Linked DNA regions of Homo sapiens: all the other regions are linked to region 1. The links come from fine-mapping of genetic effects on gene expression. A gene starts in region 1. Each other region holds a variant in brackets. All regions are shown on one strand. Distances are between the middles of the regions.

Region 1 (6,201 bases):
GTACGGTCATCACTACAAGACGCCAGGCGCTGGCCACTCGGGTCAAAGGCCAAGCTCCACACAGTGGATTCATGGCCCTCAAGGGTGGCACAGCATACCCAGTCATCCTCTTCCTCCCGGTACAGCTTCACTGTGTCATCATAGCTGGCAGAAGCTAAGAGCTGGGGGAAGAGTGAAAGGAAACCCAACATGTGTCTGTGTGGCCCAGGAAGCAAAGGACAGGTCAGTTCCAGGTATCTGCTTTTATTTTATTTTATTATTTATTTGAGATGAAGTTTGCTGTTGTTGCCCAGGCTGGAGTGCAATAGCACGATCTCGGCTCACCGTAACCCCCGTCTCCTGGGTTCAAGTGATTCTCCTGCCTCAGCCTCCCGAATAGCTGGGATTACAGGCATGTGCCACCATGCCCGCTAATTTTGTATTTTTAGTAGAGACGGAGTTTCACCATGTTGGCCAGGCTGGTCTCGAACTCCTGACCTCAGATGATCCACCCACCATGGCCTCCCAAAGTGCTGAGATTATAGGTGTGAGCCACCACACCCAGCCGGATCTGTTTTTATAAAGGGACTAATGTTTTTTGTTCACAGATGGAACTCTCCGTAAAAGCTAGATTAAGGCTGAAAAGCAGAGGAAGGCTGGGCACAAGCCTGCACACCAGAGCCCTTCCCACAAGAGTCCCTGCTTGACTCTTACCTCCTGACTTGGGTGCCAAACCACATGCTTGACATCCTGTGTGTGGGAGTTGAGAACACTGACACATTCATACTCATCCTCTTCATCAACTGTGGGAGAGAAAAAGGGGACCCAAGAGCCGACCCTGTCAGGGACACAGAGGGGGCTGTCAGGTGGTTCCCAATCCACCTGGAGGGACCTGGCCTCACCTTCCCAGACCCAAACGCTCTTATCTCGGCTGCAAGTGGCCAGGAGGTTGCCAGATGGGGCCCAAGCCACTGACTTGACCTCATTTTCATGGCCCTCGAGAGTGGTTACACACTGTGAAAGGGGAAAGAAAATGAGAATTAACAGCAGCTAACACCCCTAAGCCCCTTCCCATGGGTACAGCCCAACTGGCGCAGGTTGGCTCAGGTTCCTGAACCAGCCCTGGGGAGGAAACAGGCAATAATTCTGGTCCCAACCAGCCTGGGTACCTCAAAGTCATCCTGGTTCTTCTTCCAAATGCAAGTGGTAGCATCAAAGCTGGCAGAGGCCAGGTAATTACCGCAGGGGGACCAGGCTACCTTCCGCACGGTGCGCTGGTGGCCTTCAGAAAGGACAGACTTGCAGATCCAGCTGTCACCTAAAGGCGGAGCGCAGGCCAGGCTCTGGAGCTGGGTGCAGCACCATGAAGCCATTCAATATCAGGGGCTAGCACTGGAATCAAGCTAGTGGGGGAAAGCTCAGGGAGTGTATTTCACAGCTTTTACAAAGATGCAAATGAATCTACTTCGTCTGGAAGCTTTTTTTTTTTTTTTTTTTTTTTTTTGAGACGGAGTTTTTGCTCTGATGCCCAGGCTGGGGTGCAATGGCACAATCTCGGCTCACTGCAATCTTCGCCTCCTGGGTTCAAGGGATTCTCCTGCCTCAGCCTCCCGAGTAGCTGGGATTACAGGTGCCCGCCACAACGCCCAGCTAATTTTGTAGTTTTAGTAGAGACGGGGTTTCACCATGTTGGCCAGGCTGGTCTTGACCTCTTGACCTCAGGTGATCTACCCGCCTCTGCTTCCCAAACTGCTAGGATTACAGGCGTGAGCCACCGCGCCCAACCTCTGGAGGCATCTTTCTAAAACAAATCTGATCTAAAATTGCTATTGGTTCCCCAATGCCCTCGGGATAAAATGTGACCATCCAGTCGCAAGTTACTCTGAAGGCCACTTTCCTAACACCTCTCTTTTCCCATTTTCCTGCCTCTGCAGCTAACACAATTCCCTTGACATTTCAGCTTGTCTGCTGACGTTTTTCCTCCCAACAGTCGCAGACTTCTTTGCCTGTAAAGCCCTTCTCGGCGTGGCTAACATCCCACTCTCCCTCCGCCAGGAACAGGTTCAGCCTCCCCTGCAGGCTGAGCGCCTGCACTACGCGCAGGCTGAGCCCTCAGCGCTGAGGGCCGCGCAACCAGGCTGGGCCTTACCCTCCGTGCCCCAGATGCGGATTCTCCGGTCGCCGCCGCACGAGGCCAGCAGGGTCCCCGCGGGGTTCCAGGCCAGGAACCAGCAGCGGGAGTCCGGGTGCGCCGGGACACGGCCCAGCAGCACCAGCGAGTCCTTCATGTCGGCCCGACGCAGGGGGAGGTGGGGGCGGGCAGAGTCCGCTGAGCAGACAGCGGGTCTCACCGCGCGCGTCTGCGTACCGCCCACTCCAGGCTTCCGCGGCCGACAGAGGCTCCCGCTTCCGCCGGAGGACCTGGGTCGCCCCGGAAACTCAACTGCCCACTGCTGCGGCCGCCATACCCTCTGGGAGTTGTAGTCGCTCCCCTCACCTCGGCAGGGAAAGCATCGCGGGACCGCCTCGAACTACCAGTCCCGTGAGGCCCTGCGCAGAGCCGGCGGCGCGCCCAGGCTGTGACGCGCGCGGGGGACGGGGCGGGGAGCCGGAGGAGGCGGAGGCAGAGGAGGAGGAAGCCGGAAGTGCATCGGCCCCGGGTCTGTCCGGGCGTTGCGGGATTGGGGCCTGGGAACGCTCGGCCCCCGGCAGCCGAGAAGCCCGTGACTGGGCTGAGCAGCACCATCCCAGCCCTGGGGCCTGCTGACTGGTGAGGAACAGTGGGCGGCGTGGGGAGGGTCTTTTCTGCGCACAGGTCGCACCCCAAACCGCCGGTCCCAGATCACGGGTCCCCGATCCCCGCGGCCCAGCCCGGTCCTCCGCCCCTCGGCATCCTCTGGCTGAGACCCTGACTCCGGGTCTTTGCTCTAGCAGTAGCCGATCCCCGATCCCTCCGCCCCCCACTCGAGTCTGCCCAGACCCCATCTGGCCCCTGGCCCTCTTCGGTTGTCGTCCCGCAGTCCCATTCCGGAGTCTCCTGTCTCCGCCCCCCGAATTCCCGCAGCCCTCCCCGTCTCCGTCAGCCCCGGGTCCCACCCCCCTATCCTCTGGTGTCAACCCTGACAGCCCAGTCCCGGCTTCACCTGCAGCGAACCCGGAGCGTTGCTATCCTCCACCGGACTGTCAGGCTCTGCGCGCCCCGCGGAGGTCGGCGGCGACCAGCAGCGACTGCGGAGCGACGGCGGGCGGCCCCGGGCATGTACGCCCCCGGAGGCGCAGGGCTGCCCGGCGGGCGCCGGCGGAGGAGCCCGGGAGGCAGCGCTCTGCCCAAGCAGCCGGAGCGTAGCCTGGCCTCGGCCCTGCCTGGCGCCCTGTCTATCACGGCGCTGTGCACTGCCCTCGCCGAGCCCGCCTGGTTGCACATCCACGGAGGCACCTGTTCGCGCCAGGAGCTGGGGGTCTCCGACGTGTTGGGCTATGTGCACCCGGACCTGCTGAAAGGTGAGGGTGCTGCGCGCTGGCCCTTAAAGCCTCGGTGGGGGACAGAATGTGTTCTGGCTGAAGCAGAGATAGCCAGGGACCAGACACTTGGTTGAAGGAAACGGCCCCATAACTGCCTGGTGTTCATGCCCACCAGGTGGCTCTGTTTGGGGTCCGGCCCCTCATTAATTCTGATGTTATTCAGCTAAGCACCTACTCCTCACAGCCATGTTAATCCGGACTGCTGCTATTTTAGGATTCTGCTGGAGGAAGGACGCTGTGTATCGAGAAAAGATAAGGGTGCTAGGTATCACAGTTAGCTGGCCTCTTCTAAGGATCCTGTGAAATACGGAAAAGCTTCTTTGGGGCAGACTGATTAATGGAGAAAAAGGAACTTTTAATATGACTAGGTTTTAAAAGATATCTTAGAGTTCTATGGTAATCGGATGCGTATTAGAGAAGAAGGGAATCTGTGGCATTTTAGGTAATCGGAAGACCGTTCCATTGCCACCCGCAGTACAACAGTCGGAATGTGGCTCTTGGAACCATTATAGGTGTGCCTGACAGAGGCAAGGTTGCTTTGTTCATCATCATGCTTTCCGGCCAGATAGACAGCAGACGATGGGAGGGTCCTATGGGCCCCATAGTTTATCCTGCCCATTCTTGTCTCCAGTAAAAATTGTGAAGTGTGAGGACAGGACTGGACTGTATCACCTGCTTTTTACCCTAACAATGATCAATGTACCCCAAACAGTCCTTAGTAACAGCATAGTTCATCAACCCCAAGGTCTTTTGAGCCATCTTGAAGGTCTTATATCCTCTCTGTGCTATCCTGTCTGTGCTATTCCCTGGCTGTGATGCATTCCAGATGTTTACTGCACCGCCTATCAGAAGCACTTCCTGTTAGATATCTGCGTGTTACCTCCTGAAGAATTCAGGCACTGGGATTTGGTGAAAAGGTCCAAGTTCCCCGCTGTGCATCGGACCATACTCTGCTTCTGCAGGTCTAGGCTGAAAAGCCTCATCCTTGTGGCCAAATGTTGCCTTTCTCTGAGTGTTCTCTTACTGTTTTGCATCTCTCTTGAGTTTTAGAAGCTGTAGGGTGATTTTGTAGAAGGTTGGGGACAACTGGTTGTTTCCAGATTTCACCTTAATGGTACTCTTTGCTGGGTTGGCTCATTAAAGCCAAAGTTATGCACACGACAGAGGCCTTATATGCAGCCTTTTCTCTGTCATGTTGCTAATGGCACAAAGAGCATTAAGCTTGAGTGAGTCTTGGTGGTTTTTCTTTTAGCACATTGCCCTGTACTTGCTTTCTTTGAAGCACACATACCACCTTCCCACCACTAGACCCATCAGATCTAGAAAGCTAGATCTCCGAAATCTAGCACTGCATGGGGTGTGCTTAGCTGTGGCTCAGAAAAATGAAGGATCTCCCCAAGGCTACCCAGTTTAGGGTGGCAGAGCTGGGACTACCCCACCTCTGTTGATGCCAATATAAAATGATGCCGTGTCATTTATAGTTTTTATCCTTTGTTTTACTTCAGCTGTCATAAGGAGCAATCTCATAATTATTTCACTTTGGTGTGCATCCTTGTCGAAGGCATGTTAAAAATAAAAGTAAATTTTTGAGCCGGGCGTGGTGGCAGGCATCTGTAATTCCAGCTACTTGGGAGGCTGAAGCAGGAGAATCGCTTGAACTTGGGAGGCCGAGGTTGCAGTGAGCTGAGATCGCGCCATTGCGCTCCAGCCTGGGCAACAAGAGCGAAACTCCATCTCAAAAAAAAAAAAAAAAAAAGAAAGGCCAGGAACTGGCTCACACTTCTGATCCCAGCACTTTGGGAGGCCGAGGCGGGTGGATTGCCTGAGGTCAAGAGTTGGAGACCAGCTTGGCTAACATGGTGAAAGAAACCCTGTCTCTACTAAAAATACAAAAATTAGCTGGGTGTGGTGGCACACGCCTGTAGTCCCAGATACTCTGAAGGCTGAGGCAGGCGAATCGCTTGAACCCAGGAAGTAGAGGAGTTGCAGTGAGCCCAAGATCACACCACTGCACTCCAGCCTGGGCAACAGAGCAGAGCAAGACTCCATCTCAAAAAAAAAAAAAAAAGTAAATTCTTGGTGCAGGTTCTTCTTTGTTCACATGTGTATTTACCCTTTCTAAGAAATTATTCGGGCCAGGCCAGGCATGGAGGCTCACACCTGTAATCCCAGTACTTTGGGAGGCCAAGGCGGATGGATCACCTGAGGTCAGGAGTTCAAGATCAGCCTGGCCAACATGGTGAAACCCCATCTCAACTAAAAATACAAAAATTAGCCAGGCCTAGTGGCTGGTGCCTCAACTACCCAGGAGGCTGAGGCAGGAGAATCGCTTGAACCTGGGAGGTGAGGTTGCAGTGAGCCCAGATCACACTACTGCACTCCAGCCTGGGCTACAGAGTGAGACTCCATCTCAAAAATTAAAAAGAAAGAAATTATTCAGGCTCCGTTTTGTCTTTTGCAAAGCATGTTTTCTTAACCTTTACATTACATTTGCTCACATATTTAGAGACCTTAACCTGTGTATAGTTTCTACTTGCTTGCCTGTGGCCATCTCCTAAGAGCAGTTTGTGCCCATTAATAGGAGAGTTGGCAGTGGTGCCTCATGAGCTATCACAGAAGAATCAGTAAGGAATCCGGAAGTCCTTGATTGCATCTTCTCTCCCTTTTCTTTGTACCTACTGGTTTTTTGGTACCCAGTGG
Region 2 (6,201 bases), 280 kb before region 1:
GTAGGAACATATCTCCCTCCTGAGAGCTTGGGGAGTGTCCAGGTTCACCTGGAGGCGGAGCACAGGTGAGGGTGGCAGGGAAGAGTGCCCAGGGAGTCAGCAGAGGGAGTCAACTCACCTCCAGCGAGATGGGGTTCTGGATTCCGTTCTGCTTGCCAGCAGGTTTGGGGGATGCAGGTGGGTCTAGGGCGTCACCCTCCGTGGACTGCTTCCTGTTCCCTTTGACAGGGGCTGCTGCAAGGAGAGAGGGAAGGAGTAAGGAGGAAGGGGTGGGGAGAGAGCATATGAGATGCAAGCAGGGAGGAACAGGAGCACTCTCCCTACTCCCAATTGGAGTTGCCAGAGGGCGCCAGTGCAGGGGCTCACTCCTGTGATCCCAGCACTTTGGGAGGCCCAGGCAGGCGATGACCTGAGGTCAGGAGTTCAAGACCTGTCTGGGCAACGTAGTGAGACCCCGTCTCTATTATTAAAAAAAAAAAAAGAATTGGCCAGGGGGAAGGGGTGTGTCCCTGGCTGCACATAGGCTACATGCACACACACACACAGGCCCTCCTCCCCGCTCCCCGACAACCCGCTGCATCCGCTCCACACCTGTCCCTTTTCTTTCCTCTGCTCCAACTATCTCCCCACATCTTTGAAGGAAACGCAAAACCACCTTGAGGTCAAGTCACAGGAGGCCGGGGTTGGGCTGTGGTGCTTGGGGAAATCCTGTCTCCAAAATCTGCCCCATGCTCAGACACAGAGTTGAGAAGCAGCTTAGTCTCACTGGAGAGCTAAAGGATCCCATGGCTGTGGCCCCAAAGCAACACAGGGGTCCCTGGGTAGTAGTTCCTCTGGGAATATTCAGGAATATCTGACCTTTCCCTGAGCATCTGCAGAGTTCTAACTGCCCTAATAAGGCCACATGCTCTCCTCACCTACAAGGGTCCTGGTGACCCCTCAGGTCTCTGCTGACAAGTGCCTTCCTCTGGGTGGCCTCCTCTGGCCCCTGGCCACGGGCAGCTCCTCCCTCGCCCTAGGCTACTCACAGCCATCCTGGCTGAACTGCCTGTGGCTCCTGGGGCTCCCTGATAGTTCGGTGAGGCTTCCCATACCCCACACAGCAGGTGCCAAGCTGGAATGAGCAAGGCTCACAACAACCCTGCGTGGTGGGCAGGAGAAGCCATGGGCTGTATTTTACTAAGAACCACCATGTGCTGATGGTTGCAAAAACGCAACACCTCTGCCACTGCAAAAACCACAACCACTGGAAACTGCCTGAGGCCACACAGCAGGCTGGCAGCAGATACCAGACCAGGAACCCACATCTTCTGACAACCTTTTCTTTCTGTCCTTTGTTCTTTTGTTAATCAAGTATGAATTGGTTCACTCCCTCCCAGGACATCCTTATTGTTAGGAACCTATGAGATTTCCCTTCCATCCCAGACAGAAAAAGAATCTCCTCAGGAACAAGAAACCCAAACCAGCGTAAGCCAGGGGCCAGTGGTACTCAGAGGCACAGGGTAGAATCCTTGGCCACTGAGTGGTCCTGCTTTGGTAGGTGTTCTTATGTCTTCCCTCCATGTTGATGGCTGCTGACTGATTTCAGGGTGGTGGTTTCTTGGGCTGGGGTGACTGTGGCAATTTCTTAAAATAAGACAACAATGAAGTTTGCCACATCCATTAACTCTTTTTTTTTTTTTGAGTCAGAATCTTGCTCTGTTGCCCAGGCTGGAGTGCAGTGGCGTGATCTTGGCTCACTGCAATCTTCGCCTCCCAGGTTCAAGTGATTCTCCTGCCTCAGCCTCCCGAGTAGCTGGGACTACAGGTGCGTGCCACTAAGCCCGGCTAATTTTTGTATTTTTAGTAGAGACGGGGTTTCACCATATTGGCCAGACTGGTCTCAAACTCCTGACCTCATGATCCACCCACCTCGGCCTCCCAAAGTGCTGGGATTACAGGCATGAGCCACTGCACCTGGCAACTCTTCCTTTCATGAAAGACTTCTCCATGGCATGCATGTGATGCTATTTTTGACAGCATTTTATCCACAGCAAAACTTTCAAAACTGATGTCCCTCCTCTCAAACCCTGCTGCTGCTTTATCAACTAAGTTTCTGTAACATTCTAAATCCTTTGTTGTCATTTTGACAATGTTCACAGCATCTTCGCCAGTAGATTCCACCTCAAGAAGCCACTTTAGGATGGGCGCGGTGGCTCACGCCTGTAATCCCAGCACTTTGGGGGCCAAGGTGGGTGGATCACCTGAGGTCAGAAGTTTGAGACCAGCCTGGCCAACGTGGCGAAACCCTGTCTCTACTAAAAACACAAAAGTCAGCTGGGTGTGGTGGCAGGTCCCAGTAGTCCCAGCAACTCAGGAGGCTGAGGCAGGAGAATCCTTTGAACCTAGGAGGCGGAGGCTGCAGTGAGCTGAGATTACTCCACTGTACTCCAGTCTGGGCGATGGAACAAGACTCTGTCTCAAAAAAAAAAAAAAAAAA[G/AG]AAAAAGAAAAAGAAAAGAAAAGGAAAGAAAAAAAAAGAAGAAAAAAAGTCACTTTCTTTGCCCACCCATAAAAAGCAACTCCTCATCCACTCAAGTTTGATCATGAGATTGCAGCAATTCAGTCTCATCCTCAAGCTCTGCTTTCTAACTCTAGTTCTCTTGCTGGTTCCACTGCATCTGCAGTGTCTTCTCCACTGAAGTCTTGAAGCCCTCAAAGTCATCCAGGAAGGTTGGAATCAAATTCTCCCAAATGCTTGGATATTTTGACCTCCTCCCACGAACCACAAATGTACCTGAAATGCTCTCCGGAGGTTTTCAATGTATTTTGCCCATCAGAGGAATCACTATCTATGGCAGCTACAGTCTTACAAAATGTATTTCTTAAATAATAAGACTTGAAACTTAAAATTACTCCTTGATCCTTGGCTCTAGAATAAATGTTGTGCTAGTAGGCATGAAAACAACATGCAGCTCCTGGTACATTTTCATCAGCGCTCTTGCATGACCGGTTGCCTTGTCAATGAACAATAATATTTTGAAAGGAATCCTTTTTTCTGAGCAGTAGGTCTCAACAGTTGGCTTAAAATACTCAGTAAACCATGTTATAAACAGATGTGCTGTCATCCAGGCTTTGTTATTTCATTTTTAGAACACAGAGTGAGTAGATTTAGCATAATTCTTAAAGGTTCTAGGTTTTTTGGAATGATAAATGAGCACAGGCTTCAACTTAAAGTCACCAGTACCAGCTGCATTAGCCCCTAACAAGAGAGTCAGCCTGTCTTTTGAAGCCATGCATTGACTTCTCCTTAGCTATGAAAGTCCTAGATGACATCTTCTTCTGATACAAAGCTGTTTCATCTACATGGAAAATCTGTGGTAGTGTGGCCACCTTCATCAGTGATCTTAGCTGGATCTTCTGGATAAATTGCTGCAGCTTCTACACCAGCCCTGGTTGATTCGCCTTGCACTTTTATGTGATGGTGATGGCGTCTTTCCTTAAACCTCATGAAGCAACCTCTGCTAGCTTCCAACTTTTCTTCTGCAGCTTCCTCACCTCTCTCAGCCTTCACAGCATTGGAGATTTAGAGCCTTGGTCTGGATTAGGCTTTGTCTTAAGGGAATGTTATGGCTTGTTGGATCTTCTATCCAGACTTCTCAAACTTTCTCCATTATCAGCAATAAGGCTGTTTTGCTTTACCATGCGTGTTCACTGGAATAGCACTTCTGATTTCCTTCAATAACTTTTCCTTGGCATTCACAACTTGACAAACTGGTGCAAGAGGCCTAGCTTTCGGCCTATCTGGGCTTTCGACCTGCCTTCCTCACTAAGTTTAATTATTTCTAGTTTTTTTATTTAAAAGTAAAGACCTGTAACTCCTCCTTTCACTTGAACACTTAAAGACCATTGTAGGACTGTTAATTGGCCCAGTTTCAATATTGTTGTGCCTTAGGCAACAGGGAGGCCAAAGAAGAGAAAGAGAGGAAGAGAGATGGGGAATGCTGGTCGATGGAGCAGGTGGAGGAGGAGCACACACAACATTTATCGATTTAGTTCACTGTCTTTGTGGGTGGGGTTCATGGTACCCCAAAACAATGACAATAGGAACATCAAAGATCACTGATCACAGATCACCATAACAGATATAATAATGAAAAAGTTTGAAATGTTGTAAGAATCACCAAAATGTGACACCGAGACACAAAGTGAGCACGTGCTGTTAAAAAATGGCATCGATAGACTTGCTCGATGCTGGGTTGCCACAAACCTTCAATGAGTAAAAAATGCTGTATTTGTGAAGTACAATAAAGCAAAGCATGATAGAGCAAGGTGTGCCTGTACATTCTCTCCCTCAGTCCCGGAGGAATTCCATTTTAAAGAGGGGGAATCTGAAGCCAGAATGGTTATGGGTAAGTTGCTTGCCTCCCTGGGGGACCAGGATTCAAAACAAAGTCTGATTCTGGTCCAGTGGCTGCTGTGGTTATCAACATTTGCAAGGCCTTCATGAAGAGTCCAAGTAAGCCTGGAGAGAAACCAGTCCTAAGGCTTGTCAAAGAGAAAGAGACCAGGGCCACCCTCTTGGGCTAGCCTCTGACCCACCAGTCTCCAGAAATCCTGGGTACTAACAAGTGACCCAGCAGACTGATGCCTTTCCAACCAAGTCCTCTGTGACTCTGTGCTTCAGTCTTCCCTGCTATGAAATGGGAGAGGAAGATCCTTGAGTTCTTTGCTAGCTATCCGTGAATTCCTGAAGTCTTCCAGGTCCAGAAGCACCTCCTCCACTGGCTCTTCTCCCACTGCCTGCTACCCTCAGCTCACACATCCCCTCCCCTCATTCCTGCTGCCCCAGAGCCTCAGCATCGACAGACCCTCTCCATGTCTTCCTTGGTGTGACTGGGGCTTCTTAAGTCACAGACTTGCTATGTGACCCTTGGCAAGTCGCTGCACCTTGGGCTTCAGAAAAATACAGTGGTTAGACAGGGCCCATCAGAATCACCTGGAGGAGCATAATGCTCCGGCCCCATCCTCAGAGTCTGATTTAAGGTCCAAGGTGGGGCAGCAGGGTTTAAAGCTCCCCAGGGCATCCCAGTGGGCAGCCAGGTTGTGAGCCACAGGGCGAGAGGGGCCCTAGTCCCTTCTGCATGGTTCAGAGTTTGCAAGCTCTGCCTGGACCACACCAGGGGAAAATCTCCTGGAGTTGGGTGCTCGTGTTACCTGGAAAGGAGGTCACCAATCCGAGCTGTTTAACCCCAGATGGGAAAGGGATTAGAGCTGTTCGCCTTAAGCCACAAAGGGAAACATTCTATCTCTGTGTCCAGCTGAGTCCCCAGATGAACTCGGTCTCCATTCTCAGGGTTAGTGCTCTGTCCTGCCAGGGCCCTCTGGGTTGCAGGCCTTTGGGCCCCCTCTTCTGCAGCATTAGATGAGCAAGAAGGGAGAGTCCTCTCCCCCTTGGTCTCCAGGGTGCCCTCTGTCTTGTCCCTGGCTGCCCTAATCCCTCCCTTTCCCTGATCATTCACAGATCAGGGTTATATTTGTAAAAGGGGTTCTGCTATAAAAAATAAGCTTGAAACCCGCTGCCATAGATGTTGGGCCATGCAGGTCCAGCGTTGGGAGGTAGAGAGCTGGGAGCCAGGCAGGCAGGACCTGCATGGTGGGGTGGGCCCTCTCCTGGCTCTGTGGAGGAGGGAAAAGGCTTATGGAGCTGGAGGCCCCGTCTCCCAGCCCCACTCAGCCCACAGAGGCAGGAGAAACCCACTTGCCCCTGATAGCTGCTGCTGCTGCTGTGAGCCACCGCACTACTGCCTTGTTCCCAGCCTGTGTGTGCAGATTCTTTTCTGGCACAATGCCTTACATGTTTTATTTGTAACAGAAGTGGGGGATCAAATGCAAAAAAGAAAACTGCTCTCCATAAGAATGTCATCCAGACTTCACCTTTCTCCATCCAGCAAGCAATAATGATGATGATGGTGATTATTGTCTCATTACTCACTTGTAACACATCTGGAATCTATTCCAGTATACAGGATGAAATAGGGATCCTAGCCATACTTTCCCCTCATTGGTTGGGGGCCCCAGTGAGTAGCCTCCTCCTCCAATGGTGTAAAATGCTACTTTCCCCATAATGTCAGTGCTTATAAGGAACACATCTGGGACTATTTCTGGACTTTCTATTCTGTCTCATCCACAGTGGGATGCTAGGACCTGTGCACACTGTTTTAA
Region 3 (6,201 bases), 110 kb after region 1:
GTTTTTATTGAAATGGGATCATACTATACGAACTTATTTTGCAACTCACTTGTCTTCACTGTATCTTGAAGCTTGTTCTAGATCAGTGTGTGTAGATTTACCTCATTATTTGTTTTTACAGATACTTGATAGAAGTGTAAAAACTTTGTATTCCATTTTTCCTCCCAATACAGACAATGCTGCCTTGGAAATCTTTGGACAAGTTTCTTCACCCAGAAGAGAGGTTGCAGGGTTGAAGAGCATGTGCTTTAAACATTTGGATAGGTTCTGTCAAATTGCTTTCTTTAAACACACGTTATCAACCAACTTACACTCCCACCAAAAGAGCACAAGTTCACTCATTCACCACCCTTCCCAGTATTTGAATGTTTGCCAACCTGATGGGTGGATCATCGCGCTGCCTTGTTTCAGTGGGTAGAGCATGGCTTTTGTGGATTACTGGAGATTTGCATTTCTTGGTCTGTGAATTCTGTGTTGTTATTCTTTGCCCCTTTCCTGTTGTGTTGTTTGACTTTTTCTTATTTGTTTTTGGAGGCCTCACATCTTTACTCACTTTCTTCACACTCTCTGTCCTCTTTTCCTGTTGGGCTTTTCTCCATAACCACCATCTGACGTACGATGTGTTTATTTCTTTATTGCTTGTCCTCCCCACCCCATTACAATGTAAGAACCAAGAGGGCAGAGATTTTGTCATTTGTCCATGTGAAGGTTTCCAGTACCTGAGACAATGCCTGGTGCCTAATAGGCACCCTCCAATTAACTGCTGGATGAATGAATGAATGAATAATATTTTATCTGTCACTTGCTTTCAAATATTTTCTTTCTTTCTTTTTTTTTTTTTGAGATGGAGTTTTGCTTTTGTTGCCCAGGCTGGAGTGCAGTGGCACAATCTCGGCTCACTGCAACCTCTGCCACCTGGGTTCAAGCAATTCTCCTGCCTCAGCCTCCCGAGTAGCTGGGATTACAGGCACGTGCAACCACATCTGGCTAATTTTTGTATTTTTTAAGAAGAGACGAGGTTTCGCCATGTTGGTCAGGCTGGTCTTGAACTCCTGACCTCAGGTGATCCGCCTGTCTTGGCCTCCCAAAGTGCTGGGATTAGAGGCATGAGCCACCGCGCCCAGCCTGTTTCTAAGTATTTTCTCCATGTTTGTCACTCACCCTTTACTTTTGTTTGTGGTGAGTTTGAGCATACAGAAACTTTTAAAAAATTTTAAGTTTATTTTGTTTTTTTTCTCTCCAACTTTTATTTTAGGTTCAGAGGGTATGTGTGCAAGCTTGTGACATGGGTAAATTGCACGTTATGGGGGTTTGGTGTACAGATTTTTTCGTCACCCCAGTAATAAGGATAGTACTAGACAGGTAGTTTTTCGACCCTCACCCTCCTCGTCCACCTCAAGTAGGCTCCATGTGTGCTCAACGTTTAGCTCCCACTTATAAGTGAGAACTTGCGGTATTTGGTTATCTATTCCTGCATTAATTTGCTTAGGATGATGGCCTCCACCTCCATCCGTGTTGCTGCAAAGGACTTGATCTCCTTTTTTATGGCTGTGTAATCTTCCATGGTATATATGCACCACATTTTCTTTATCCAGTCCACCGTTGATGGGCATTTAGGTTTATTCCTCCTCCTTGCTGTTGTGCATAGTGCTGTAATGAGCATTCACGTGCATGTGTCTTTGTGGTAGAATGATTTATGTTCCTTTGGGTACATACTCAGTAATGAATTGCTGGGTCAAATGATAGTTCTGCTTTAAGTTCTTGGAGAAATCTCCAAACTGCTTTCTACAGTGGCTGAACTAATTTACATTCCCACTGGCAGCATGGAAGTGTTCTCTTTTCTCTACAACCTCTCCAGCATCTGTTATTTTTTGACTTTTTAATAGTAGCCATTCTGACTGGTGTGAATTGTTATCTCATTGTGGTTTCGATTTGCCTTTCTCTAATAATTAGTGATACTGACCATTTTATTCATATGCTTGTTGGCCATATGTATGTCTTCTTTTGAGAAGTGTCTGTTCATGGCCTTTGCCCATTTTTATTATTTTTATTTTTTATTTTTTTGAGAGAGAGTCTTGCTCTGTCACCCAGGCTAGAGTGCAGTGGCGAGGTCTCGGCTCACTGCAACCTCTGCCTTCTGGGTTGAAGTGATTCTCCTGCCTCAGCCTCCCAAGTAGCTAGCTGGGGCTACAGGCGCGAGCCACCACAGCTGGCTAATTTTTGTATTTTTAGTAGAGACAGGGTTTCACATATTGGCCAGGCTGGTCTCTTGAACTCCTGACCTCAAGTGGTCTGCCTGCTTTGGCCTCCAAAAGTGCTGGATTACAGGCATGAGCCATTGTACCCAGCCCTTTGTCCATTTTTTAAATGGGGTTGTTTTTTGCTTGTTAATTTAAGTTCCTTATAGATTCTGGATATTAGAACTTTGTTGGATGCATTGTTTGCAAATATTTTCTCTTGTTCTGTAGGTTGCCTGTTTACTCTGTTGATGGTTTCTTTTGCTGTGTAGAAGCTGTTTAGTTTAATTAGGTCCCATTTGTTAATTTTTGGTTTTGTTCCAATTGCTTTTGGAGTCTCTGCCAGGGCTTGTGTCCAGAATGGTATTTCCTAGGTTTTCTTCTAGGGTTTTTATAGTTTTTATATGCTGGGAGTTCTGGGGAGGAGAGCCTGCATACCAGCCTGAGCTCCTAGTCCCCACTTAACCCTGGGCCACTGTCCTGTCAGCCAAATCGAACTGCTACCGACATACCTGGGTGCCACTGAAAGGTTTCCAGCAGAGCAATTTAGAAACTTAGAAAGTTCATTCTGGATGCTACAGGAGGAGGGGCGAGGCTGGAACCAGGATAGAGGTGGGGTCTCTCAACTCCCTCCAGCCAAAGACCACGAGGAACACAGCTGTAGTTGAACAAATCGGGCATATTTGCAGCGAGGGCAAACACACAGTACCAGGAACCGTGGGCGTCTGGGCAGGATGTGTGAGAAAGCACCTGTGCCACAGGCTGGGCTGTCCTGTGTCCTTGATGTGTTGTGGAGAATTGGACTCCACCTCTTGATAGAAGAGCGTCAAAATGTTGTAGTCATTTTTGCACTGTACCACAAGGCCATTCTTCTTTTTTGGGCTGGGAGAACAAGGAGAGGGAAGATGTTGTCAGAGTCTGGGACAGCGAGGGCTGTGAAGAGGGGCCGAGCTATGGGAACGGGAGT[C/A]CCAGAGGGACCCAGCCCGGCCCACACCTTGGTGTCAGGGCAGAGGAGGAGCAGGGATAGAAGTCCTCGAGACTCTTTCCCCACTTCGCCTCCTGGTGCCTTCTGGCTGAGTAGTCAGGAAGCAGAGAGTGAGAGATCCCACCTGACTGTCCGTGCATGGCAGCCTGTGGGCCCAGAGCAGGGAGGAGAACGGGTCTGGGAAGGGGAAGGGGACAGAGAGTAACCAGCAAAGCCACTGCATTCCCAGAGCCCAGAGCGGTGCCTGGCGCATAAGAGCTGCTCCACAAATATGTGTTGAATGGCTGAGTCTCACGGAGGTCTTAGTTCTGGGCAGCGCCCCTCTAATGTGTGTGATCCTCCTGGGGAAATTCCAGGGTGGAGGAGGAGAAGTTTATTGAAGGGGCAAGAAGGGGCTGGGGCCAAAAACAGTCAGCAACACCCTCTCGTGACCCAGCTCCTGGCTCTCTCGCGACTCTTCTTGCCGCTGATGTGACTGGGCTGTCCCAGTGCAGACTCTCTGGACCTCACTGGCCAGGGTCTGAGGGCCTCCTGCCAAGCTAGGACAAGAAGGGGCTGTGCAGGCGGCCAGGCCCCCTGGGTCCACCTTGGACTCCTGGATCCCCCGTGCCCTGAGCCTCTCAGCAAGCCTTGCCCGAGCCCGTGCTGGGCAGCAGGTCCCGAGGCGGCCCTCTCGGGAGCAGACGGCTGCAGTGCACCAGCATGGATTTCTTCTGTCCCAGCACCTGCTGCATGGAGCCTACAGAAGGGGCTGCCGATCAGGGAAAGGAGGAAGGTTCTCTTAGCATAAGCAGCCCGGAGATGCACGAGGAAGGGGCCCAGCTAGGTGGGGCAGGGGGGCACTGTCTGTGACGCTCCCCCTGAATTGACAACCATGGGGCCTCTGCTCTCCCTGACTGCCCTCTCTTGCCCCACAGGATCCAAAGTTGAGGAGTCAAGGGCCAGGAGGCTGAGAGGTGCCAGAGCAGGAGGGTCCTGGGGAAGGCTTTGTCCTCGGCTGTGAGAGAAGCTTACACATGGGCAGAGGGGCCAGGAAGAGCCCTATGCCTGGAGAGAGGCTGGGGGACAGAAGAAAAGCTTCTTCTGGGGTCTCCCTATAGGTGGGGGCTGCCCCCTGTGCTGGGAGGCCAGCCCACTTGCCTGCCCTCATGAGTCTGTTGTTCCTTCATTATTTTAATTATTTACGTATGGCAGGCCGTTCACAGCTTCCAAAACACCTTCCCGGATGGTGGCTCATTCAGTTCCGACAACAGCAGGGTGAGGTGGTGCTGCTGGGGCCCCTTTCCCAGTGAAGCGGCAGGGGCAGGGTGACATGATTCAGCACTGCCGCCGCCCACACAGAGGGGCCACCCCTCCTTGCACGCCATGAGGGGAAGGCACCCCGTGTGCGCCCTACTGCTGGCGTGTGAGCAGTTTCTATTTCCCTTGGCGGACTGGGACTATGGGGCCTTCTCCCCGCTGGGGCCTGTCACTGTCCCAGCCCTGGACCCAGCAGGGAACTTCCTCCACCCTCTATAGGGTGGGGTGTGGGGAGAGCCCCGCTTAGCCTCAGCTCAGGGCTTCTGGGCTGCCGGACACTGCCTGGCCCTGTGGTCCCCAACCCATGTGGCCACCTGCTCACCCATTTTCGACTCCATGCCAGGGCCAAGATGCTTGTAAGCCCCTTGTCCTTCCTCTGCTACTGACCTGTCCCCAGGCCCCAAGGGCTCCTTGGGGAGGTAGGAGATGGCTGAGGATAAGCCCAGTGGTTTTCTGTAACCTGTTCCTTCTGCCCTGTGGGAACCATGGCTGTGCACTGGTCCTGTCCACAGCCCTACTTGCCCAGTGTGGCTCTGGCAGGGGCCACCCCTGTGTTCAGGCATGGGGGCCTCCTGGGGGGACGGTGGCTGACCTGGGGGCAGGCAGGTTCTGCTGAGGGTGGGGGAAGGCAGCATGGCTCTGGGCAGCCTGTACAGGACATGTCTTCTGCCCCTCCAGCCTCTTGCTTAGGATTCACCAAGCATGACTCACTTTCCCTCTCTGAGCCTCAGTTTCCATATCTGTAAAGAAGGGCTGATGAGAATCCCTGGGGTGAGGACAGAGGGAGACATCCAAGAGGGTGGAGCCTGCTTGGAAGCAGCTGCATGACAGCAGCTCCCATGGGACAGCAAGTCCCTGAGGGCTTCACAGAGCTGCAGGGCACCCAAGAGGGAGCCACCACGCTCCGCCAGGGTGACGGGGAAGCTTCCTGGAGGAGGCAGCATTGGTGCTGGCCCCAGGGAGGCGGGCATGAGGGCATTCTGAGTCCACAAGAAGGGCATTGCAGACAGAGTGGCTGCTGTGAGCAAGGTGGTTTGGGGGCCATGGGCACAGGGTGGTGGGAAGAACTAAGCTGGGCTTTGCTGAAGAACATGAATCAAATAAGGGGAAGAAAGATGGGGCCTTGACTCCCTGCTGAAGGGTGTGGATGCATCCCAGAGGCAACTATAGGGAGCTGGGACTCAGATTTCCCTCGGGGAAGAAGACTTGGGCTGTGATGGGAGGGGGTGGGCAGACGGGGCCGGGAGAGGCAGAGGCAGGTGCCCAGGACCTGGGGGTGGCTGTTATCATAGTCTGGTTAGGAGACAACAGGGCCTGGCTGATTCTGAAACCAACTGGTTGGTTTGGGAAACCTCTGCTGTAACCTCACATTAGCCCCCAAACCAGTTTGTCACACTGCTTGGAGTCACCCCAACATGGGCCCTGGTGTGGGCACATGACATGCCGGGTCTCTGATCCTTTTGTGGCATGGAGTTAACCACCTCTCTGCTTTTCTGGTTTAAAAAACAGTGCTTGTTTGTTTTTCTCATATTTTATGTCATCATTCCAAACAAATTTTGGAGAATAAGTAAAAGGTAAAAGTGTGTTTGAAGTGGGCTCATCTCTCAGCCAAGGTGGAGGGGGTTCCCCAGCCCCTGGAAGATGGTGAACCCATCTGGGGTTCTAACCCACAACTAATCT
Region 4 (6,201 bases), 350 kb after region 1:
GGAAGGAGAATGAGTTGAAGTATAGATTTTACAGACGTCACATCGTATTGCTAAAAACAGATGGAAAAGTGATCATAATAACCAGTAAAAATTGTAGAACGAGAACTAATGAGACCACTGATGTAGCAATGATTTTCCTCAAGGAAGAGGGATTGTGAGGCAGGAAAGAGGGAAAAGAAGAAGTTATTTATGTAATTTTGGGGTTTCTGCTGAGGAAACCTGAGTGAACTCACTTCAGATGCATTTAGCATATTTACACAAAAAAGATTTGATTTTGGCAGCTCCAGGAACTACTGGATGAAGCAAAGAAAGCTAGAATTGGGATAAACCACATTGACTAATTACTTCTCTTTGCTACTATTAGGCATAAGACATATATCTTTTGTTGATTTTTGTTATAAAAATTAGATAAACTTGAATATCAATACATTGGCTTCTTTCATCAAAGAGCTATCTCACGGATAAAATAACTATTTAATGAATATTATTTAGAGAATAGTATGATCCTCCTAACAAGACAATTTTAAAAACAAATATAATGTTGAGTTCATCAACTGACTCTTAAAATGGTCATTTTCAATGAATATTGGAGTGATTTCCAAATATAAAAGCTTATCAATATCCAATGCTTTTAGCAGTTTTATTTAGTAGAAGTATGTCAAAATTGATAATTGATGATGCTTTTTATTGAGGTTTATATATCATACTTTGTTGCCATGAGTGGATGAAGAAATGTCTGGGAAGGCTAAACTAGAGAATACAGGAAACTTAGGCAAATTGTTGCACCACATGGATATGAGAAATAATGAATATTATTTACTCGGATTCAGGAAACATATATCCAAGCTGAGCAATTTAGGACACTTCACTGAAGAGACAGAGACATGAGGTGTACATTCAACTGAAGTGTCACTGTAAATGTGTACCTTCTCAGTTACTGGGCAAGTTAATGAACATGATGAATGTTTGCAGTATAATGGTGTAAATCATTTGGATATCTTGCATAAAAGACAAGTGGGTGCATGTGCCACCTGCTTTGAGATTTTCCCAGGTGATTGAGTTTCCCCTCTGATTTTTGATCACATTTGTCGTGATCACTTGGCATACCCTTTTTGATATTCACACTGATTTATTTTTCTTTTAGATATACGAGAAATCATATTATGTTTGAAATAGTTAGGAATATATCGTGACACATCAATTCCTGTTTTCTTTAGTATATTTCTGTCATGCTCCTGGCTTAAGACATAAAGTAGAAAACATCAAAGCCTACACTAATACAGGCAGGCAGATACAGCTTGATGCTAACACCGCATGAATGTATGGAAAATGTATCATATTTACATATGAGTGATTATCCCTTTTGTTTTTCAGTGTCTTCTCAGAAACAACCAGCCTTGAAGGTAATTAAACTTTCATTTATATTGTGAACTAGTGAATCTATAGTCTATGAAACATGCTTCATTTATTTATTTATTTATTATTTTCTTTCAAATTCCATTCAGGCTACAACTGACGAGGAAGATTCTGTTTCGAATATAGCCACAGAAATAAAGGATGGAGAAAAATCTGGGACAGGTAATTTTGCAAAAGACATTTAATGTCATGTTCAATCCAGATAGAAAAGAACTTCTCTACCCCGAATAAATCAGTGGAGGGCAGGTGGGGGGGCTCGCCGAAGCTGCACATTCTGATTCAGTAGGCCTGAGAGTCTTCATTTGTAATAAATTCTTGGGTGACGCTAATGCTGCTGGCTTGGAACGTGATCTTTGCAGTATGATTATACACTTCCCCACGTTGAAATTGGGAAGAAGAAATATGGAGAGAGGTTCAAGACATAAGGGGCTCTGGGGAACAGCATAGTTTTGCTTTAATTCTACAGCATGGTTTCACTAAGGGTGGAAGGAGAAAGAGAGGAAGTATAGATTTTACAGACATCACATCGTACTGCTGAGAAAAGACAGAAAACTGATAGTAATAACCCATAGACACTGTAGAATGAGAACTAAGGAGATCCCTGATGTAGCAATTATTTTCCCAAGGAAGATGGATTGTCAGACAGGAAGGAGGGAAAAGAAGTTATTTATATAATTTAGGGGTTTCTGCTGAGGAAATCTGAGTGAACTCACTTCACATGCATTTGGAATATGTGCCTAAAAAATATTTGATTTTGGCAGCTCCAGGAACTACTGGAAGCAGGAAACAATGCTAGAATTGGGATAAAGCACACTGACTCATTACTCCTTTTTGTTACTATTAGGCATCAGAGATACATGTTTTGTTGACTTATAAAAATGAGATAAACTTGAATATGAATACATTGGCTTCCTTGTTCCAGGAGCTATCTCTTGGATAAAATAGCTATTTCATGAAACTTCTTTAGAGACTAACATGATACTCCCAAGAAGTATCATGTTTTAGAAACAAAAATTATGTTGAATTCTAATTAACTCCTAAAATGGTCATTTTCAATGAATATTGCAGTGATTTCTGAATGAAAAACTGCTCAATATCTAATGCTTGTAGCAGTTTTACTTTGTAGAAGTATGTCAAAATTGATAGTTGATGATATTTTTATTGAGGCTAATATATTATCCTTTGGTGCCATGACATGATGAAGAAAGTTTCAGAGGGATAAACTAGTGGATACAAGAAACTTAGGCAAATTATTACACCACATGGGTGTGAGAGATAATGAATATTATCTACTAGGTATCAGCAAACAGATATCCAAGGTGATCAATTTAGGACACTTCCACTGAAGGGGATGTGAAGTGTACATTCAACTGAAGTGCCATGGTAACTGTGTGCCTTCTCAGTTATTGGGCAAGTTAAAGAGCATGATGAATGTTTGTAGTATAATGATGTAAATTCTTTTGATTTGTTGCACGAAAGACATGTGGGATCATGTAGCACCTGCTTTGACATTGATTCTCACGTGTATGAGTTGCTCCTCCGATTTTAGATCAGTTTGTCCTCATCACTCGGCATATCCACGTTGATATTGACACGGTTTTATTTTAGTTTTTGACGTATGATGAATCATACCATGTTTGAAATTGTAAGGATATATTTGATGGAGCCTGTATTCCCTCTTACCAGTGTATTTCTGTCATGTTCCAGTCCCAAGACACAAAGTAGAAGACATCAGAGCCTACACTAGTACAGGCAGAAGGATACAGCTTGATGCTAACACTGTGTGAATGTATGGATAACTTTATCATATTTATATATGAGTGATTATGTATCCCTTTTGCTTTTCAGTGTCTTCTCAGAAACAACCAGCCTTGAAGGTAATTAAACTCTCATTTACATTGTAGTCTATGACACATACTTCATTGATTTATTTATTTATTATTTTCTTTCAAATTCCATTCAGGCTACAACTGACGAGGAAGATTCTGTTTTGAATATAGCCACAGAAATAAAGGATGGAGAAAAATCTGAGACAGGTAATTTGCAAAACACATTCAATGTCATGTTCAATCCAGATAAAAAAGAACTTCTCTATCCCGAATAAATCAGCGGAGGGTGGGTGGGGGGAGTCGC[C/T]GAAGCTGCACATTCTGATTCAGCAGGCCTGAGATTTTTCATTTGTAATAAATTTCTTGGGAGACGCTAATGCTGTTGGCCTGGAACATGATCTTTGCAGTAAGATTATACACTTTCCCACATTGAAATTGGGAAGAAGAAATAGGGAGAGCAGTTCAAGACATAAGGGGTTCTGGGGAACAGCATAGTTTTGCATTAATTCTACAGCATGGTTTCACTAAGGGTGGAAGGAGAAAGAGAGGAAGTACAGATTTTACAGACGTCACATCGTACTGCTAAGAAAAGACAGAAAACTGATATTAATAACCTATAGACACTGTAGAAGGAGAACTAAGGAGACCCCTGATGTAGCAATTATTTTCCCAAGGATGATGGATTGTCAGGCAGGAAGGAGGGAAAAGAAGTTATTTATATAATTTAGGGGTTTCTGCTGAGGAAATCTGAGTGAACTCACTTCACTTGCATTTGGAATATGTGCTTAAAAAATATTTGATTTTGGCAGCTCCAGGAACTACTGGAAGCAGGAAACAATGCTAGAATTGGGATAAAGCACACTGACTCATTACTCCTTTTTGTTACTATTAGGCATCAGAGATACATGTTTTGTTGACTTTACTTATAAAAATGAGATAAACTTGAATATGAATACATTGGCTTCCTTGTTCCAGGAGCTACCTCTTGGGTGAAATAGCTATTTCATGAAACTTCTTTAGAGACTAACATGATACTCCCAAGAAGTATCATGTTTTAGAAACAAAAATTATGTTGAATTCTAATTAACTCCTAAAATGGTCATTTTCAATGAATATTGCAGTGATTTCTGAATGAAAAACTGCTCAATATCTAACGCTTGCTGCAGGTTTACTTTGTAGAAGTATGTCAAAATTGATAATTGATGATATTTTTATTGAGGCTAATATATTACCCTTTGGTGCCACGACTTGACGAAGAAAGTTTTGGAGGGATAAACTAGTGGATCCAAGAAACTTAGGCAAATTATTACACCACATGGGTGTGAGAGATAATGAATATTATCTACTAGGTATCAGCAAACAGATATCCAAGGTGATCAATTTAGGACACTTCCACTGAAGGGATGTGAAGTGTATGTTCAACTGAAGTGTCATGGTAACTGTGTGCCTTCTCAGTTATTGGGCAAGTTAAAGAGCATGATGAATGTTTGTAGTATAATGGTGTAAATCCTTTTGATTTCCTGCATGAAAGACATGTGGGATCATGTAGCACCTGCTTTGACATTGATTCTCACATGTATGAGTTGCTCCTCCGATTTTAGATCAGTTTGTCCTCATCACTCGGCATATCCACATTGAGATTGACACGGTTTTATTTTAGTTTTCGACGTATGACGAATCATACCGTGTTTGAAATTGTAAGGATATATTTGATGGAGCCTGTATTCCCTCTTACCAGTGTACTTCTGTCATGTTCCAGTCCCAAGACACAAAGTAGAAGACATCAGAGCCTACACTAGTACAGGCAGAAGGATACAGCTTGATGCTAACACTGTGTGAATGTATGGATAACTTTATCATATTTACACATGAGTGATTATGTATCCCTTTTGCTTTTCAGTGTCTTCTCAGAAACAACCAGCCTTGAAGGTAATTAAACTCTCATTTACATTGTATTCTATGACACATACTTCATTGATTTATTTATTTATTATTTTCTTTCAAATTCCATTCAGGCTACAACTGACGAGGAAGATTCTGTTTCGATTATAGCCACAGAAATAAAGGACGGAGAAAAATCTGGGACAGGTAATTTTGCAAAAGACATTTAATGTCACGTTCAATCCAGATAGAAAAGAACTTCTCTACCCTGAATAAATCAGCGGAGGGCGGTTGGGGGTGCTCGCCAAAGCTGCACATTCTGATCCAGCAGTCCTGAGAGTCTTCATTTGTAATAAATTCTTGGGTGGCGCTAATGCTGCTGGCTTGGAACGTGATCTTTGCAGTATGATTATACACTTCCCCACGTTGAAATTGGGAAGAAGAAATATGGAGAGAGGTTCAAGACATAAGGGGCTCTGGGGAACAGCATAGTTTTGCTTTAATTCTACAGCATGGTTTCACTAAGGGTGGAAGGAGAAAGAGAGGAAGTATAGATTTTACAGACGTCACATCGTACTGCTGAGAAAAGACAGAAAACTGATAGTAATAATCCATAGACACTGTAGAATGAGAACTAAGGAGACCCCTGATGTAGCAATTATTTTCCAAAGGATGATGGATTGTCAGACAGGAAGGAGGGAAAAGAAGTTATTTATATAATTTAGGGGTTTCTGCTGAGGAAATCTGAGTGGACTCACTTCACATGCATTTGGAATATGTGCTTAAAAAATATTTGATTTTGGCAGCTCCAGGAACTACTGGAAGCAGGAAACAATGCTAGAATTGGGATAAAGCACACTGACTCATTACTTCTTTTTGTTACTATTAGGCATCAGAGATACATGTTTTGTTGACTTTACTTATAAAAATGAGATAAACTTGAATATGAATACATTGGCTTCCTTGTTCAAGGAGCTACGTCTTGGATACAATAGCTATTTCATCAAACTTCTTTAGAGAACAACCTGATACTCCCAACAAGGCTATTTTAGAAACAAAAATGCTGGATTCTAATTAA
Region 5 (6,201 bases), 51 kb after region 1:
GACATGGGGCTTGTAACTCAGCTCACACCCGACCAATCAGGCAGTAAAGAGGGCTCACTAAAATACAAATGAGGCTAAAGCAGAAGGTAAAGAAATAGTCAAATCATACATTGCCTGAGAGCACAGGGGGAGGGACAATGATCGGGATATAAACCCAGGCAATCGAGCAGGGAGCGGCAACCCCCTTTGGGTCCCCTCCCATTTTATGGGAGCTCTGTTTCACTCTATTAAATCCTGCAACTGAAAAAAAAAAAGTTAAAAAGAATAATGATAGGTACTAAATTGCTATGATATAGATTCCATTGGATACATTTGAAAATGATGTAACATCTTTATTTTAAAATAATATTTACAACAATCCAGAAATGGTGTAATGTGCAATCATTTAAACTCATAATCTTGGATCACCTTAAAAAATGCAAAGTGGGGATATAGTTTTTCAACATTGTTCTGGGGATACACAAGTAAACAAAGTTTGTTGATAACAGGTGGAGCACCATGGCTCATGCCTGTAATCCCAGCATTTTGGGAGGCTGAGGCAGGTGGATTTCTTGAGCCCAGGAGTTCGAGACCAGCCTGGTCCACATGGCAAAACCCTGTCTCTACAAAAAAATACAAAAATTAGCCAGGCATGGTAGCATGCACCTGTAGTCCCAGCTACTTGAGAGGCTGAAGCAGGAGAATTGCTTGAGCTGGGAGGCGGAAGTTGTAGTGAGCAGAGATCAAGCCACTGCACTCCAGCCTGGGTGACAGAGTGAGACCCTGTCTCAAAAAAAAAAAAAAAAAAAAAAAAGTTGGTTTATTTGAAGGGAGGTCATCTGAGACAGTACTATTAGAACCTTAAAAAAAGTGACAGAATTCTGTCAAAAAATTGATTTTTTAATTTCTAAACAGGAAGAAATGATAGGGAGGTACAGAAATAGAGGCAGGAAACATATAGTTGTCCCTTGGTATCTGCGGGGGATTTGTTCCAGGACCTCCTGTGGATGCTCAAGTCCCTGATATAAAATGGCATAGTATTTGCACATAATCTATGTACATACTCCCATATACTTTAAATCATCTCTAGATTCCTTATAACTAATACAGCGTAAATGCTCTACAGTTGTTATACTGTATTGTTTAGGGGAGGGGTGCTCACAGCGCATTACCGCCTGAACTCTGCCTCCTGTCAGTTCAGCGGTGACACTGGATTCTCACAGGAGAGCGAACCCTATTGTGAACTGTGCATGCTAGGGATCTAGGTTGCTATGAGAATCTTACTAATGCCTGATGATCTGAGGTGAACAGTTTCATCCCAAAACCATCCTACCCCGTCCGTGGAAAAACTGTCTCCCATGAAACCAGTCCCTGGTGCCAAAAAGTTTGGGGACCGCTGGTTTAGGGAATAATGACAAAAAAGTGGGTACATGTTTAGTATAGATGCAATTTTTTTTCCCAAATATTTTCCATCCACAATTAGTTGAATCCCTGGATGCAGAACCCGTAAATACAAAGGGCCACCTGTATATGCCATTGTTTTTAAAAATATATAGGCCGGGCGCGGTGGCTCACACCTGTAATCCTAGTACTTTGGGAGGCCGAGGCGGGTAGATCACGAGGTCAGGAGTTCAAGACCAGCATGGCCAAGATGCTGAAACCCTGTCTCTACTAAATATACAAAAATTAGCTGGGCGTGGTGGCACGCGCCTGTAATCCCAGCTACTTCAGAGGCTGAGGCAGGAGAATCGCTTAAACTCGGGTGCCAGAGGTTGCAGTGAGGCAAGATCAAGCCACCGCACTCCAGCCTGGGCAACAGAGCAAGACTTCGTCTCAAAAAAAAAAAAAAAAAAAAAAAAAAAAAAAAACAACTTAGCAGTGGAAAGAGAAGTGGTATCTAGAAAGGGGAAGAGTTAAAGCCTCTTTTTAAAGACTTTTATCCCCAAAGCCTTTTTTGAAGATGAACTCGATTATGTTTATGTACTGATGGGAAACAGGCAGTAGGATGGAGAAAATGGCTGCATTAGAGAGGCTCAGCAGGAGTTTCTGAGGATTCGTTTGGTTTATAGGATATTGGTAGAAAACTTATGTATACATATAAAATCAAACCCACAAAGTACTCCTTTTTTTTTTTTTTTTTTTTTGAGACAGAGTCTCCCTCTGTAGCCCAGGCTGGAGTGCAATGGCATGATCTCGGCTCACTGCAACGTCCGCCTCCCAGGTTCAAGCAATTCTCCTGCCTCAGCCTCCCAAGTAGCTGGGATTACAGGCATGCACCACCACACCTGGCTAACTTTTGTATTTTTAGTAGAGATGGGGTTTCACCATGTTGGCCAGGCTGGTCTCGAACTCCTGACCTCAGGTGATTCGCCCGCCTTGGCCTCCCAAAGTGCTGGGATTACAGGCGTGAGCCACCGCACCCGGCCAAAGTGCTCCTTTAAAAAAATTATTATTATTAAGAAATCCACTTCTCTAACTGTCACAAAGTCCAGGCTGAGTTAACAGTGATGAGTTCCGGAGGTAACTCCACCCCACTCCGGGTTTTCTGGTTACAATCACTGTATTCACTCTCCACCTCAACTGAAAACCCAGACTCAGGAAGCCTCAAGCCCTGCCCTTCTATTCCTGGCAGATGCCAAGGCCAACTATGTAGGAGGCTTTTTTAGAGAAGACACTTCATCTTCCCAAAAGACAAACCCTCCACTCTGCTTTATGAGGCAGATAGCAACAACAAACCACCAATGGGTTGGGGCTTGCGCAGGCCTCATTGGCTCCTTTTAAAAATGTTTTTAGAGAGAGGGTGTAGTGGCTTATGTCTGCAAACCCAGCACTTTGGGAGGCCGAGGCAGGCAGATCGCCTGAGGTCAGGAGTTCGAGACCAGCCTGGGCAACATGGTGAAACTCCGTCTCTACTAAAATACAAAAAATTTGCTGGGCATGGTGGCATGGGCCTGTAATCCCAGCTACTTGGGAGGCTGAGGCATGGGAATTGCTTGAA[C/A]CCAGGAGGTAGAGGTTGCAGGGAGCCAAGATCCAGCCTAGGCAACAGAGTGAGACTCCGTCTCAAAACAAAACAAAACAAAACAAAAAACCCCTGGCTAAACACGGTGTCAAATACTACTTTCTGTTACATACACATTTCTTCTTCACTGCTTTCCAGATGAAATAAAACCTCATTAATCCAACCTAAAATCGGACAGGCTGGATAGGAAAGACCTAAATTTCGGTTCCCAGGAAAGCATAATCTCTCTTTGGAGAAACAGTTACTTTTATTAAGAACGTCTAAAATCGCATAACTCTTTAGCTACAGTAAAATTCCTAAATGCCTTGGAACCAGCAGTCCATTTCACACCAAGACAGTTTATAATATTTTTTCTTCTGTCAATAAGGTGCTTAAATATAAGATTTAAAAGGGTAAGGAAACAACTTAGCAGCTTTGTTTTAATGAGGCTGGATACAGAATAGTAATTTAATACACTTTGAGATCATTTAGCCAGGTTGCTCACAGGTGAGTAAATCTGTTTACCTTCCAACACTGTCACCTTTGGGTCAAAAAGAGAGGGACAGCTACTACTTGACCTAGGGCATCTGCCCCAACAAACTCTCTTCTGTTGCTCTTTTACCAAAAGGCTGACATATTTGCAGACTGCGACGGGCCACCTGCCCATGTGACTCCCTCTGGACTGTCCTGGGCGCTCAGGCTGTGACACGGGTCCATTCTTGGACCGAGGAGTTAGCAGAGAGGAATGTTTGGGGTGCTTCTGGGAGAGCCAGGAGGGGAGGCCGGGGAAGGTTTTGATGGCAGGCGTCGAAGGAAGGTTTTGATGGCAGGCGTCGAAGGCCTGAGGAGTCCCCCTTCACCAGTGGTGTCTTTACTGCCCCCTACCCCATCCTGGTGTAACCACCCAATGGGTTCACCTTGCCTGCTGCATAGACAGAGCTGATTTATCAAGACAAGAGAATTGCAATAGAGAAAGAGTAACTCACGCAGAGCCCACTGTGCGGGAGACCAGAGTTTCATCATTACTCAAATCAGTGTCCCTGAGCATTTGGGGATCAATTTTTTTTTTTTTTTTTGAGATGGAGTCTCGCTCAGTTGACCAGGCTGGAGTGCAGTGGCGTGATCTCAGCTCACTGCAACCTCTGCCTACTAGGTGCAAGCAATTCTCCTGCTTCACTCAGCCTCCCTAATAGCTGGGATTACAGGGGTGCACTACTATGCCCAGGTAACTTTTGTATTTTTAGTAGAGACGGGATTTTGCTATGCTGGCCAGGCTGGTCTTGAATTCCTGACCTCAAGTGATCTGCCTGCCATGGCCTCCCAGCAAAGTGCTGGGATAACAGGCGTGAGCCACCGCACTGCACCTGGCCAAGAGACCTTTTTTTTTTTTTTTTTTGTGAGACGCAGTCTCGCTCTGTTACCCAGGCTAGAGTGCAATAGCGCTATTGTGGCTCACTGCAACCTTGGCCTCCTGGGTTCAGGCGATTCTCCTGCCTCAGCCTCCCAAATAGTTGGTATTATAGGCGCCCACCACCATGCCTAATTTTTGTATTTTTTGTAGAGACGAGGTTTCGCCATGTTGGTTAGGCTGGTCTCAAACTCCTGACCTCAGGTGATCCGCCCACCTCAGCTTCCCAAAGTGCTGGGATTAAAGGCATGAGCCACTGTGCCAGGCCCCAACCCAGAGTTTTAAAGGAGACTTTGGTGGGTGGGGGAAGGTCAGTGAGTCCAGAGTGCTGATTGGTTGGGTCCGAGATGAAATCATAGGGAATTGAAGCTGTCATCTTGCACTGAGCTGGTTCCCGGTTGGGGGTCACAGATCAAATGAGCCATTTTATCCATCTGGGTGGTGCCAGCCGATCCATCAAGTGCAAGGTCAGCAAAATATCTCAAGCACTGATCTTAGGAGCAGTTCAGGGAGGGTCAGAATCTTGTAGCCTCTTAAACCTTAACTTCTAACCTTGTGGCTAATTTGTTAGTCCTACAAAGGCAGTCTAGTCTCCAGGCAAGGACCTTTGTTTTGAGAAATGGCTGTTATCCTCTTTGTTTTAAACTATAAATTACGTCCCTCCCAAAGTTAGTTCAGCCTATGCCCAGGAATGAATAAGGACAACTTGGAGGTTAGAAGCAAGATGGAGTTGGTTAGGTCAGATCTCTCTGTCTCAGTTATAATTTTGCAATGGTGGTTTTAATCCCTCCCTTTGGGTTTATAACACCTTTATCTTAAGGTGTTGTTAATGAAGATGGAAAAAGGGCAAAGACCTTAACTTCTTCCTACTAACCAGGGGTGTAGTGAGGGGTAGGTGTTGACTCCAAGGTGAGAGGAGTGGAACCACTTTGCAACTGTCTGAGTGTACTCCTGCAGGCCTGACTGGGGTTCGAAGGCTTGCATGGCAAAGGCATTAGTATTGCCACCTATAGTTTTCGTACTGTGTTTAAGGGAACCGTGTACTATAAGGGAAATAATGAGTACTAGGGTAAGGAGTGCAGTTCCCAGTTTTAAAAGTAAAGATTTAAAAGCATTAGCCTGGGAACTTGTAGCCCACAAAGAATTTAGGATTTAGTTCAAACTGCAGAAAAAAACTTAAGAACAGTTAACAAAAGGTGTACCACAGTTTTTCTTCTGAAGCATAATTTTTCTCTCTCCAGTTCCCATTTTTACTAAAAACAAATCATGATAGAACTGATTTGTTTACAAAATAAACCGCAGTCTTATTGTACTTGGCCTGATGATTTGCATAAAGTGAAGCAAGAATAATTATTTTTCACATAGGCTTTGTTTTTTTTTTTGAGATGAAGTCTTGCTTCGTGGCCCAGGCTAGAGTGCGGTGGTGCGATCGTGGCTTACTGCAACCTCCGCCTCCCAGGCTCAGGCGATTCTCCTGCCTCAGTCTTCCAAGTATCTGGGATTACAGGTATCTGCCACCACGCCCAGCTAACTTTTTGTATTTTCAGTAGAGACAGGGTTTCACCATGTTGGCCAGGCTAGTCTCAAACTCCTAACATTGTGATCTGCCTGCCTTGGCCTCCCAAAGTGCTGGGATAACAGGTGTGAGCCACTGCGCCTGGCCTTCACATAGGCTTTTAAAATTGGCTTTGATGGAACTCTGTTCCATAAGAAATCTTAGATAAGACCTTTTTAAAGCCAAGCCCAGCCATGGGTTTGTACCCTCGAATACCTATGAGTTGGGTAAATTCCTCTCCTCTTGAGGTGTCAAGATAAC

Direction of the effects. Alleles are on the strand shown, and positions count from the first base shown. SD is a standard deviation of normalised expression in the study named. Not every link is listed here.
With allele AG in place of G in region 2, the expression in neutrophils of the gene that starts at base 2,621 in region 1 is lower (moderate effect, 0.72 SD a copy in BLUEPRINT).
As copies of C replace T in region 4, the expression in putamen of the gene that starts at base 2,621 in region 1 goes down (large effect, 0.80 SD a copy in GTEx).

What was found. PIP is the estimated chance that this variant, and not a neighbour inherited with it, causes the effect.
Region 2: its variant is fine-mapped to the expression of TMEM127 in neutrophils (BLUEPRINT, PIP 0.95).
Region 3: its variant is fine-mapped to the expression of TMEM127 in whole blood (TOPMed, PIP above 0.99).
Region 4: its variant is fine-mapped to the expression of TMEM127 in putamen (GTEx, PIP 0.97).
Region 5: its variant is fine-mapped to the expression of TMEM127 in whole blood (INTERVAL, PIP 0.92).

The regions. Positions count from the first base shown.
Region 1 is chr2:96,262,417-96,268,617 of GRCh38, reverse strand. TMEM127 (transmembrane protein 127) reads left to right here and starts at 2,621. Exons shown (of 4, transcript NM_017849.4): 1 at 2,621-2,749; 2 at 3,106-3,480. The coding sequence starts at 3,237. CIAO1 (cytosolic iron-sulfur assembly component 1) reads right to left here and starts at 2,393. Exons shown (of 7, transcript NM_004804.3): 1 at 2,129-2,393; 2 at 1,149-1,297; 3 at 882-993; 4 at 694-782; 5 at 1-161. The coding sequence starts at 2,267. RefSeq lists enhancers at 5-1,204, 1,802-2,081, 2,312-2,501 and silencers at 2,732-2,781, 2,792-3,001, 3,052-3,361.
Region 2 is chr2:96,541,435-96,547,635 of GRCh38, reverse strand. It overlaps ARID5A (AT-rich interaction domain 5A), which reads right to left. Exons shown (of 7, transcript NM_212481.3): 2 at 119-234. Among named protein-coding and RNA genes, the nearest start is that of ARID5A, 7.8 kb to the right of the region's middle. The variant G/AG (reference allele first, on the strand shown) is at 2,480.
Region 3 is chr2:96,156,378-96,162,578 of GRCh38, reverse strand. No RefSeq gene overlaps it. Among named protein-coding and RNA genes, the nearest start is that of DUSP2, 14 kb to the right of the region's middle. RefSeq lists enhancers at 3,423-3,960, 3,969-4,108, 4,269-4,678, 4,395-4,689, 4,501-5,039 and 1 more. The variant C/A (reference allele first, on the strand shown) is at 3,205.
Region 4 is chr2:95,916,984-95,923,184 of GRCh38, reverse strand. It overlaps ANKRD36C (ankyrin repeat domain 36C), which reads left to right. Exons shown (of 88, transcript NM_001393982.1): 33 at 1,375-1,403; 34 at 1,506-1,578; 35 at 3,265-3,293; 36 at 3,380-3,452; 37 at 5,143-5,171; 38 at 5,258-5,330. Among named protein-coding and RNA genes, the nearest start is that of ANKRD36C, 72 kb to the left of the region's middle. The variant C/T (reference allele first, on the strand shown) is at 3,550.
Region 5 is chr2:96,211,186-96,217,386 of GRCh38, reverse strand. The region is part of intron 1 of STARD7-AS1 (STARD7 antisense RNA 1); the gene reads right to left. It overlaps SNORA112 (small nucleolar RNA, H/ACA box 112), which reads right to left and starts at 2,748; the gene lies at 2,625-2,748. The variant C/A (reference allele first, on the strand shown) is at 2,978.